3 linked regions of the Homo sapiens genome follow. The protein of the gene in region 1 purifies or fractionates together with the protein of each later gene. This does not show direct contact. Each region holds a gene or a part of one and is shown in the gene's direction. Other genes may lie near its edges.

What was found.
Region 2: the proteins of CLEC3B (region 1) and OSTF1 purify together in Homo sapiens (affinity purification with mass spectrometry; one large-scale study listed by BioGRID and IntAct). This does not show direct contact.
Region 3: the proteins of CLEC3B (region 1) and OTUD4 purify together in Homo sapiens (affinity purification with mass spectrometry; one large-scale study listed by BioGRID and IntAct). This does not show direct contact.

The regions. Positions count from the first base shown.
Region 1 is NC_000003.12:45,032,662-45,036,316, forward strand, and holds the end of CLEC3B (tetranectin), read left to right. Parts: intron 1-2,862; coding exon 2,863-3,263; 3' UTR 3,264-3,410; downstream 3,411-3,655. UniProt on the Homo sapiens protein: Tetranectin binds to plasminogen and to isolated kringle 4. May be involved in the packaging of molecules destined for exocytosis. Plays a role in retinal function.
Region 2 is NC_000009.12:75,126,430-75,130,084, forward strand, and holds part of OSTF1 (osteoclast-stimulating factor 1), read left to right. Parts: intron 1-47; exon of another isoform or gene 48-73; coding exon of another isoform or gene 74-76; intron 77-1,139; coding exon 1,140-1,190; intron 1,191-3,655.
Region 3 is NC_000004.12:145,174,075-145,177,729, reverse strand, and holds part of OTUD4 (OTU domain-containing protein 4), read left to right. Parts: intron 1-2,985; coding exon 2,986-3,069; coding exon of another isoform or gene 3,070-3,090; intron 3,091-3,655.

The DNA.
Region 1 (3,655 bases):
GACAAACATGTAACTTTGGACAGCTTGCTTGGCATGGCAGGTAGGAAGAGAGTGCTCGAGAAAGGGAGCATCTCCAGAGGTGTTTTTGACTTCATGTAATAGGAAACCTATCAGTGGCTTAAACAAAAAGTAAGTCTGCAAGTAGGTAGTTATAAGTTTTTGTTCAGAAGTTTCACCTCATGGTCTTCAGATGGCTGCCCCAACTCCAGGCATCATGAGTGCATTCAAGGCAAGAAGGAGGAAGAGTAGCCCAACCACATCTGTCTCATTTATAGGGAACGTAGTCTTCCACTTCCATCTCATTGACAAGAAATCTATCATATGGCCACCTGCAGCTTTAAGAACATCTGAGAATGCAAGAATGTAGCTTTTCCAGCCTCTATAGTGGAGGTGGACAAGAGAGAAGGGATTTGGAGGCAACAGTGCCTGGCACAGCGGGTATGTTTAGAATGAGCCCAGTGCCACTCTGAGCCTCAGTTTCCTCATCTGTAAGGTAGGCAGGGTAAACTCTAAGGTCTCTCTCATGTCTAAGCTCTGTGCTGTGCAAAGTCAATGTAACCCAGGCATCAACTGCCACCTGGGGTGAGGTAATGAGGTGGGGACCTCCCTGAAAAAAGTTCATGACATATGGAGGCCCAAAGCATGACATATGAAAGCCCCCATGTCTGCTGATTTCTAGGAAGCTGCTGGGCTTCTTGGGGCCTTCTCCTGTTCATTGTCCTCACAACCCAAAGATCACCTTTTCAATAAACCCACCCAAAGCATTGCAGAGCTCTGTTGACCTAACCAGAGTTGAAGGAATCAGGGGGCAACCTTTCCCTCCTCCAACCAGCATACACATGGGAGGTTCCCACCTGGTACATCTCTGCCAGGCACAAGGAGGCAGAGGTGATGCAGCCAGGGCCCTGCTCCCTGGGAACCTCAATATATTCATGGAATCACTTGAGCCCTTGAAAGCTGTGTAGGAATCAGAGAAGATAAAGAGGGTTGATTCCAAGCAGATGGCAGGGCAGGAGCAGAGGTGTGGAGGACTAGCATAAATCGACAGGATCATGAATAGACCAGAGCAACAAAATGTTGGCAGCAATGATAGTATCACGAGAAGTAGCATTGACTGAGGACTACCTATGTGTTGGAGGGAGGTTCAGGTGAGGGTCCTAGGAAGCAACTCTGAGATGGAGTTTAACCCACAGGAGACTTATCAGGAGATACCCTCAGGATCAACCCCTGTGCTAGGGAAGGGATGGAAGGAAGCAGGAGTGGGCAGAAGGAGAAGTCGAGCTGTACTGTGGTGCCACGAAAGCCTCAGCTGACTTCAGGAGCCCTGATGACGGGATGACCCTTCGGCACTGTCCTGAGTCGGGGCAAGAGGGCTTATGGGTCAGTCTTGGGTGTAGGCTGCTCTAGGGAGGGGCACGGCCTTGGAAGAGATGGCTGTCTTCTGCTGAGGCAGTCCCTGCAGGAGGCTGAAAGCTGAGGACTTTCTTCCTGCAGCATTCCTGGCAGCCAGGGCAGTGAATCCTTCATCCCCAACAAAAGTCTAGGTAGCACGTCAGTGTTACCAGCAGGAAGGAAAGGCAATGAAGGCCGCTTGGCTAAGCTGTAGGATAGCACGAGGTAGGACAGCTGACTTGGGGCAGAGTCTGTGGGTAGACACCTCTGTAATGCTTCAGGCCCCATGTTTAAAGTCGGTTGTGGTGTCAGATGCCCATGGGGACACTGGGATGCTGTCCATTGATATTTGTTGAGTGAAATGGAAGTAACTGAGTGGGAATGGATAGAGGGGAGTGCAGACATCCCCCAAAGTGGTGGGGTCACCAGCAAGAGGACAAATGCAGACATACACCTGTCTGTCAAGATATTCCTTTCCACAGAAATCTTTAGTAAAAGGTGAACGATTTATACGATCTCAGGAGAAATCAGAGTATGTCTAGATATTTCAGCTAGAAATCAAGCTGAAAATGCAAACTGCAAAACAAAAATAGATTTTATCCTCCTAACTTGACCAAATATGTGCCTTCATCACAACCTTTGGGGCCAGGCTCAAACTGAGAATTTGTGGACACCTCAGAGTCCCTTGCCTGATCGCCGGCCTCTGACCACAGCCTGTGCCCAGCACTTCCTGTCTTCTCTCTTGCAGTCTCAGCTCTATCCACTCAGCCCCACCCTACCAGCCCTCAGGAGAACTGACCCTGCAAAAGGCACTTGGCAGGCCCTGGAAGCTTGCTTGGGCTGTTTGGGTAGGGATTTGGGGCCCTGGGTACATGAAGTGTGGCCTAGGCTGTAGGTGGGCAGGTGCCCTGGCCCTGCAAGCTGCTTGATCTTAGGGAGGGGCATGGAGGAAGGAGAACCAGAGCAGGTGGCTGTGGCTGGGCTCCCTGGGAAGCTGACTCTGAGACAGAGCTAATTTGTTAGGGTGAGCCCTAGGAGCCACACATGTGGGGGCGGGGGGAAGAGGAAGTGGGCAGAGGGAGAGCTGAGCTGCAGTGCAGGCACCAGGCCAGCCTCTGTGACCCAAGGAGATGGGGTGGGTAAAGGCCAGAAATGACTGAGGTGGAGGCCTGGGAAGGGGTGTCAGCTGGGGCTGGGTGCTTCTGTAGCACAAGGGCTGCCTTTTCTCCCAGCCGCGGGAGCACCAAGACCTCCTGAGTGGGGATCTGGATCTGTACATTAGTGGCCACCACAGCCAGGTCCTCAAAGTGCATGAACCATCAGGACCCCTTTTGCCTGGGTCTAAGGGGCTGTCAGGACTGATGGGATAAACGGGATGGGATGGAGGACGGTGGGCTTGGCCTGGGCGGTTGGCTCTTTGCCTGGGGAACAGGGGGACCTTCGGTGACAGCCATTTCTCCCCACTCCCAGTCTGCCTGAAGGGGACCAAGGTGCACATGAAATGCTTTCTGGCCTTCACCCAGACGAAGACCTTCCACGAGGCCAGCGAGGACTGCATCTCGCGCGGGGGCACCCTGGGCACCCCTCAGACTGGCTCGGAGAACGACGCCCTGTATGAGTACCTGCGCCAGAGCGTGGGCAACGAGGCCGAGATCTGGCTGGGCCTCAACGACATGGCGGCCGAGGGCACCTGGGTGGACATGACCGGCGCCCGCATCGCCTACAAGAACTGGGAGACTGAGATCACCGCGCAACCCGATGGCGGCAAGACCGAGAACTGCGCGGTCCTGTCAGGCGCGGCCAACGGCAAGTGGTTCGACAAGCGCTGCCGCGATCAGCTGCCCTACATCTGCCAGTTCGGGATCGTGTAGCCGGCGGGGCGGGGGCCGTGGGGGGCCTGGAGGAGGGCAGGGGCCGCGGGAGGCCGGGAGGAGGGTGGGGACCTTGCAGCCCCCATCCTCTCCGTGCGCTTGGAGCCTCTTTTTGCAAATAAAGTTGGTGCAGCTTCGCGGAGAGGAGAGGCGCTGCAGTCTGTGCTGTGTCCGCGGGGCGGGGAGGAGGTCCCAGGAGCCGGTTCGAAAGCTCCCTCCGTGATGAAGTAGGCGAGAAGGGAGGAGGTGAAGGAGGGCGAGCTGAGCACACGCGCTTCATGCCACAGGAGGGTGGGAATGAGCGGAGGACTGAGGAGAGGAAGGAGGGAAAGAATAGGGAGATGAAAACGCCCCGGTCTGCTGCTAAGCACAGCACAGTTACCAAAGCCAGG
Region 2 (3,655 bases), on another chromosome or scaffold:
CATGATGATGTAAACATTTCCTAACACCTGAAATTTGCTCTCGGTAGGCATCACCCTACTTACTTACAAAGTCATGGTAAGTGTTATCTACTGATGGTCAAAAGATGTTTAAAATGTGTATCTTTATTCAGAAAGTGTTTTTTGGTTGTTTTTGTTTGTTTGTTTGTTTTGTTTTGTTTTTTGAGACGGAGTCTCGCTCTGTCACCCAGGCTGGAGTGCAGTGGCGTGATCTCAGCTCACCGCAACCTCTGCCTCCCGGGTTCAAGAAATTCTCTGCCTCAGCCTCCCGAGTAGCTATGATTACAGGCATCCCCCACCATGCCCAGCTAATTTTTGTATTTTTAGTAGAGATGGGGTTTCACCATCTTGGCCAGGCTGGTCTTGAACTGCTGGCCTTGTGAACCACCTGCCTTGGTCTCCCAAAGTGCTGGGATTACAGGCATGAGCCACCGCACCTGGCCTCAGAAAGTTTTTAGAACATTTGGTTGGTACAGGCCAGAGCACATATGGTCTGTGTAATTAGCCAACTCCTTAGAGCTGCTTGGGGTTTCTGGACTGGCTGAGTTACTGCTTCATATCTTTTAGCTCTTTAGCCTTATTAATGGTTGAATTACATATTAACTTTTCTCATACAGAAAATGTTCATTCTCCCTGAACATGAAGAGCTAGGATAATGATTTTCTTAAAATGAGCAGATAGCAGATGTTGATCTTAAAGTGTTCAAGGATTGAGGCCTTGTTTAAGAGAAAATCAAGCTTCTGGCTGTTTTTCATGACTCTAATTCTAGACATTTATATTTTTATGAAAAAATGTATACCACCTTTTAGAATTTCTACAAGGAAGAAGTTTTATTAATACTCTATTTTGATATACAAATGTCTTGCTTTGGTTGTAGAAGAATGCAAGATGTGTGTGGAGAATCTTTATATATGTAATTCTTTGAAGTTCATCATGGGAAAAAAATCTAGCCGTCTATTCATGTGTTAATTTTTCAGTAGTGTTTTATTATATGGCTTATGTGCTGATTTAAGTGTATAAAACCACATTGCTTATTAGAATATGATAGAATTTTGAATCTATATAATCATATTCTAATTCATGAAAAATCACATGGAGTCAAACTTTTTTTTTTCTTCTAGCCAGATGAATTATACTTTGAGGAAGGTGATATTATCTACATTACTGACATGGTAAGTCCAGATAACATCTTGTAATACCACATATAAAGACTGTTTTATGTAGCTATAACATTGTAAGTTATTTAAATATATATGTACATAGAAATACATATGTACAAGTCTGTTCATTTTAGCACAATTGATAGTAGCATAAGATTGAAAATAGCCCTTATTTCCATCAATAGGGAAAGAGTTGAATAAGCTTTGGTCTAGCCACAAACAGAATATTATGCAGCTGTAGAAAGAAATGGGGAATATCTCTATATGCTATTATGAAGTAATTTAAGTGAAAAAAAAAGCAAAGTGAGAAAATGTAGATAATATATCCTCAGTTTTCTAGGAAAGGGTGAGAGTGTATGTGTACACACACATACATGCAGACACTTGTTTTTCTCAATTTCAGATAAAAAGTTGAAAGATGAGTTGCAAAGTAAAATTTAGTTTTATTCTATGAAGAGTAAAGATCCTTTCTCTAGGTGGAAGGAGAGAAATAGGGTATAATGAACATAGATGGAAGATAGACTTTTTAGAAAATTATACCTTGTTTTGTGGATTTGACTTTGAACTGATGTAAACCTTGACATGGTTAAAAATTGAAGTAAAAAGCAATCCCTAAAAATTAAAAGCAGAATGAATCAAATGAACTTAATTGTACCCTGGTAATTGGCCTAACCACACAGAGAGGAAATATTCCAAGTTTAAAACTCAGCAATTTGACTGAACATCCATAGTAGAATATGGATATGTATGAAAGACATATATATATATATATATATATATATATATATATATATATATATTTTGTCCATATATATATATATTTTGTCCATATATATATATATTTTGTCCATATATATATATATTTTGTCCATATATATATATATATATTTTGTCCATATATATATATATATATTTTGTCCATATATATATATATATATTTTGTCCATATATATATATATATATATATTTTGTCCATATATATATATATATATATATATATTTTGTCCATATATATATATGGACAAAAAGAAATGGCCAAAAAAGGGTAAATTGTTTTAAATCATGCCCTTGTTAGGGAAATGTAGGTATTGCTAATTCTGAGATTGTTGCATGTGTATTGTGGTTTAGAGCAAATGAGTAATTAGGTCGGTGATGTTGCTAACGGATTTTCAGCATAGCAAAAAGGATACACAGATGTAAGATTAATGACAGTTTAAGAAAAACTCTGTATTCCTTCATCTGAATTGCAAGGATCACATTGTATTTTATCTAAAATAAAACAAAAATATTCCCTGCTGTGTTCTTTGAAAGGGCCTAGGAAAAATGACCAACCCAATAATAATATGTTATTTTCCATTGAAATGTACAGGCTTCTTTGAGAAATGGCTGGTACCAAGTCAGGGGCAGCAGAGGTACAAGATAAACCCAGAACATCCTCTTATTAGAAAACATGGAAGCTCCTAAAGACAGTAGGGTCACACTGAAAGGACTTGGGAACGAACTTGAAGAGACTCCCACTGGCCAAAGATAGGACAATTTGAGCATCAATTAGGGCAACAACTTCCAAGAATTGAAACCCATTAAATACATTTAAATTTATGAGTTTCTAATGTTACTTCTGAGGAAATCTCATTGGTCAGCATGAGAGAATGCTAGGAAATCAGGTTTTTATTCTGACAACTGTTAAGGGAAAGAATCACCATTTATTCTGTGTTTTCTTTATGAATTTCTTACCTGGGCAATCTGAGAGCTGATGAGGAAGTTTTTGTTTAAAGAGGTATTCAGGTTATTTCAATGAAGAAGGAATGATAGAATTAGAATGTCACCATCTTGCAGCCTCTAGGAAATAGTGGATCTAGACAATGATCATCAAGGGCTACTAACATTACAAAAAGAAGCCGACTAGATAGTTTGCATTTCCTAATGGAAGAAATCAATACTGCCTAGGAAATAGCCTTGCCAAAAAAAATTGGAGCTGAATCTAATTAAACCTCTAGAACTGATGACCAATTTATAGGCAATACAGGGAACAGAGGAACATGCTTAATGATAACACAGGGATACAACAGGCAAAATCCATAGAGGTTGACACTACAGAACAAACCAACTGGATTCTTCAACAAATACATTGTAAGAGATAAAAAAGAATGGAGAGACAACCTATAGATTAAAAGATACTTAAAGACAAATCAATCATATTGTATAGCCCTTATTTGAGTCCCAAATTATGGGGCAGTTGGGAAATTTGAGTATCGACCTAGATATTTGATGATATTAAGGAATTATTGTTGGAAAAAACTTTTAAGCTGTGATAATGGCATTATAATTGCCTTTCAAAAAGTATGTGTCTTTCAGAGATACGTACTGAAATATTTACAAATGAAATAATATGATGTCTAGAATTTATTTTAAAATAATCCAGGAGGGGAGGGACGTCATGGGGGCATATATGAAACAATATTGGTCATTAATAAATG
Region 3 (3,655 bases), on another chromosome or scaffold:
GGCCATTTCCTTTTTACACTTACGGATTTGGGCCTGCCGGAGGCCTGACCTGAATCAGCTCCACAGCCATGGAGCTAAAAATAGGGCAGTCTTGGAGGACTTGCTAAAACAGTGTCTCAGCCTTTCCCAGTATTTATCACTATCTTGTCCCAAGTAAAAATGGGAAAGCCTTCTAGTTTGCTTTCATGTATATATTAATTTGCAGAGATATTTGTCATACTACTTTAATTCTTTCGAAGTGTTATCAACCTTGCACAATAATTTACATTTTAGACAGTTGTCATTTAACCTTGCTTTTCTTGCAGTGCTTGACTTTGTGAATTACCAGCACTCTCACACTTTATAGAAGTTGCTAAGAGTTTTGCTTCTGAGCAACAGGTTCAGATAGATTGTATGTGCCAAAATCTTTGTTAAAAGAGAAGAACCAGTAGATATGCCTACCATTGCTTTTGATTGAAAATAAGCTTTACTAACTTATGTTTGCCACCTGTTGCTAGGTAAATGGCTTTAAGACTAGCTCCACGTTGCTAATGGCAGAGGAAAGCCCTATCAGATGACACTGTGGTTTATTCATACGAGTAATACCTTGATTCATGATAGTGTCTAACATAGCTTCTGTGAAAGAAGTGTTGCTAAATGTCATTTGTTGAATTGGCAAAAAAATTCTACGGTGGTTATTTTTATATATAGATAGTCCTTTTTGGTCACATACTCTTAGAATATATAAGAATATAGTTTAATAGTGTCCAAGAACAGCAGTGAAGGTAGAATCAGTTAAACTGAAAACCAGTTATTACACTGAAAACAAACTAATTGCTAACCTCAACAGGTGCATTTTCAGTGTATCTCAGCGTAATAGGACATACTAGGCGTCCAGGCAGTTGTGCCGGTTCTGTGGGTATAAATGAGCCTTGGTTGTGATCCAAGAGAGCTGTAGAATGCACAGCTGGAGCCTCCCTTTTCCCAAATGCTCTACTCATGCTAAACGTAAAGGGAGAACCACTCAATTGGATCTGTAACTTTTTTTTTTTGAGACAGAGTCTTACTCTGTCACTCAGGCTGGAGTGCCCTGGCACGATCTCGGCTCACTGCAACCTCTGCCTCCTGGTTTCAAGCCATTCTCCTGCCTCAGCCTCCCAGGTAGCTGGGACTACAGGCACGCACCACCACACCTGGCTAATTTTTTTTTTTTTTTTGTATTTTTTAGTAGAGATGGGGTTTTCACCATGTTGACCAGGCTAGTCTCAAACTCCTGACCTCAGGGGACCCACCCTCCTCGGCCTCCCAAAGTGCTGGGATTACAGGCGTGAGCCACAGTGCCCGGCCAGGATCTGTAACTTTTAAAGATACTTTCTATTAATATAAATTCTCAAGAGGCCTTGATGGTAGTTTGAAATGTGTTACTTTAAGTGTGTCTGAGTTTTTTTTTTTTAAACCATAACCCTTTACGGTACAGGAATATCTTTATTTGAGATACCCAGTAATAGAAAAGAATTTTAATCTCCTTTAAGCATGTTAAATAATTGGGAGCTAGGGCCGGGCGTGGTGGCTCATGTCTGTAATCCCAGCACTTTGAGAGGCCCAGGCGGGCAGATCACCTGAGGTCAGGAGTTTGAGACCACCCTGCCCAACATGGTGAAACCCTGTCTCTACTAAAAATAGAAAAATGAGCCGGAAAAAAAAAAAAGAAAGAAAGAAAAATTAGCCGGACATGGCAGCTCCTGTAATCCGGCTACTCGGGAGGCTGAGGCAGGAGAATCGCTTGAACTTGTGAGGCGGAGGTTGCGGTGAGCTGAGATTGCACCACTGCACTCCAGCCTGGTGGGGGAAAAAAGAATTGGGAGCTAGCTAGAAGGAAGCATTGGATAAGAAATAGTTGTTTCAGGCTGGGCACAGTGGCTCATGCCTGTTGTAATCCCAGCACATTGGGAGGTCGAGGTGGGCGGATCACGAGGTCAGGAGTTTGAGACCAGCCTGGCCAAGATGGTGAAACCCTGTCTCTACTAAAAATACAAAAATTAGCCAAGCGCCGTGGTAGTTGGCTGTAATCCCAGCTACTCAGGAGGCTGAGGCAGGAAGATCGCTTGAACCTGGGAGGTGAAGGTTGCAGAGAGCCAAGCTTGCGCCACTGCACTCTAGCCTGGGTGACAGAGCAGGACTCCGTCTCAAAAAAAAAAAAAGAAATAGTTGTTTCAATTCACAGCTTTAGAATTTTGGTAAAAGACCACATGCCAGTAAGTTATCTTTTTGTTGAACTGGTTGTTTAATAGAAGAAAATGTAAACTGCAGAGTGAGAGGATCTGGATCATACTTTGTAGGTTGGTACTTTACAATTTAGGGCATAAAAACAAACCCCAAACCTCTTGGGATGATACCACACAACATTTTTGCACCCCCTATGCTGCCTACTTGGATGTTCTTTCTTGTCTTATAAGCTTGATCACCAAGGAAAGAATGAGTGCCTTAATTTTTCTGAAACCATAGTGGACTTAAATTTTTACACAGAGCCTCTAAGTGGATTCAGAATTAATGGGAAAAATAAATCGGCCTCTTACAGGCTGAAAGCCTCAAAATACATTCCTACAGAAGTTGCCAGTTTGTCTTTTTCAATATGTATAGGATGAAGTTGAGCGTGGCGTAGCATGGATTTTGTTAGCTCTTCTTTGTGAAGAGTAAAGTTATTGTGGAGGGAAGGCCAAGGGAAGAGAGTGTCCTAAATTTACAAAAATGTCCTAAAGGAGAAAGGCTAATAAATTCTTTACAAATTTGGCTTAAGAAGTAGTATTGTTTGTATATGTCATGTCTTCGCTGTGCTTAGTTAGAAGAAGAGGTAGGAATGAGTAAAGATATCGAAATTATAGAAAGGGAAATGGAGAAAGACTGATAATCTATTGGTTGTCAGATTATTTTGGGTGTAAAAGAAGACATTAGGTTGTAACTTTTAACTAAATGCTTAATAGTGTGTTTGTTGCCTTTTCTTTTTAGGTATTGCACTCTCAGTCTCGCCATGTTGAAGTCAGAATGGCCTGTATTCACTATCTTCGAGAGAACAGAGAGAAATTTGAAGCGGTAACTTGTAATTTCAAACATGTAATGGTGTCTTGACTTGGTTTTACATTTTGGCTTTTAGAAGTGTTCTAGTAGAATTTCACAGGCTGGATCTTAATGCGGGTTATGAAAATAACACTTATTAAAAAAACTTCTCTATTGAACTTAATCTAGTTATATTCAGTTATGTTGTTTTCTAGGCTATTTTATGTTTTGCATTTATTTGGACATTTAGAAAGCTACTATGATGGATAAGACGCTGAGCTGTGGGGGATGGAAAGATGACCTGGACAAGGCCCTTGCATACTAAGAGTGGGCTTTGTCTGACATGGTCAGGGAATTGGGGGTGTTGTGATTAATAGTGGTTTCTGTGATGGGTAACTCCCTATAAATTAAAAGAAAAAAAATTCAGTCTGGGCATGGTGGCTCACACCTGTAATCCCAGTACTTTGGGAGGTGAAGAGTTCAAGACCAGCTTGGCCAACATGGCAAAACTCTGTGTCTACTAAAAGTAGTGGCATGGTGGCACATGCCTGAGTCCCAGCTACTCTTGAGTCTGAGGCACGAGGATTGCTCGAACCCAGGAGGCAGAGGTTGCAGTGAGCCG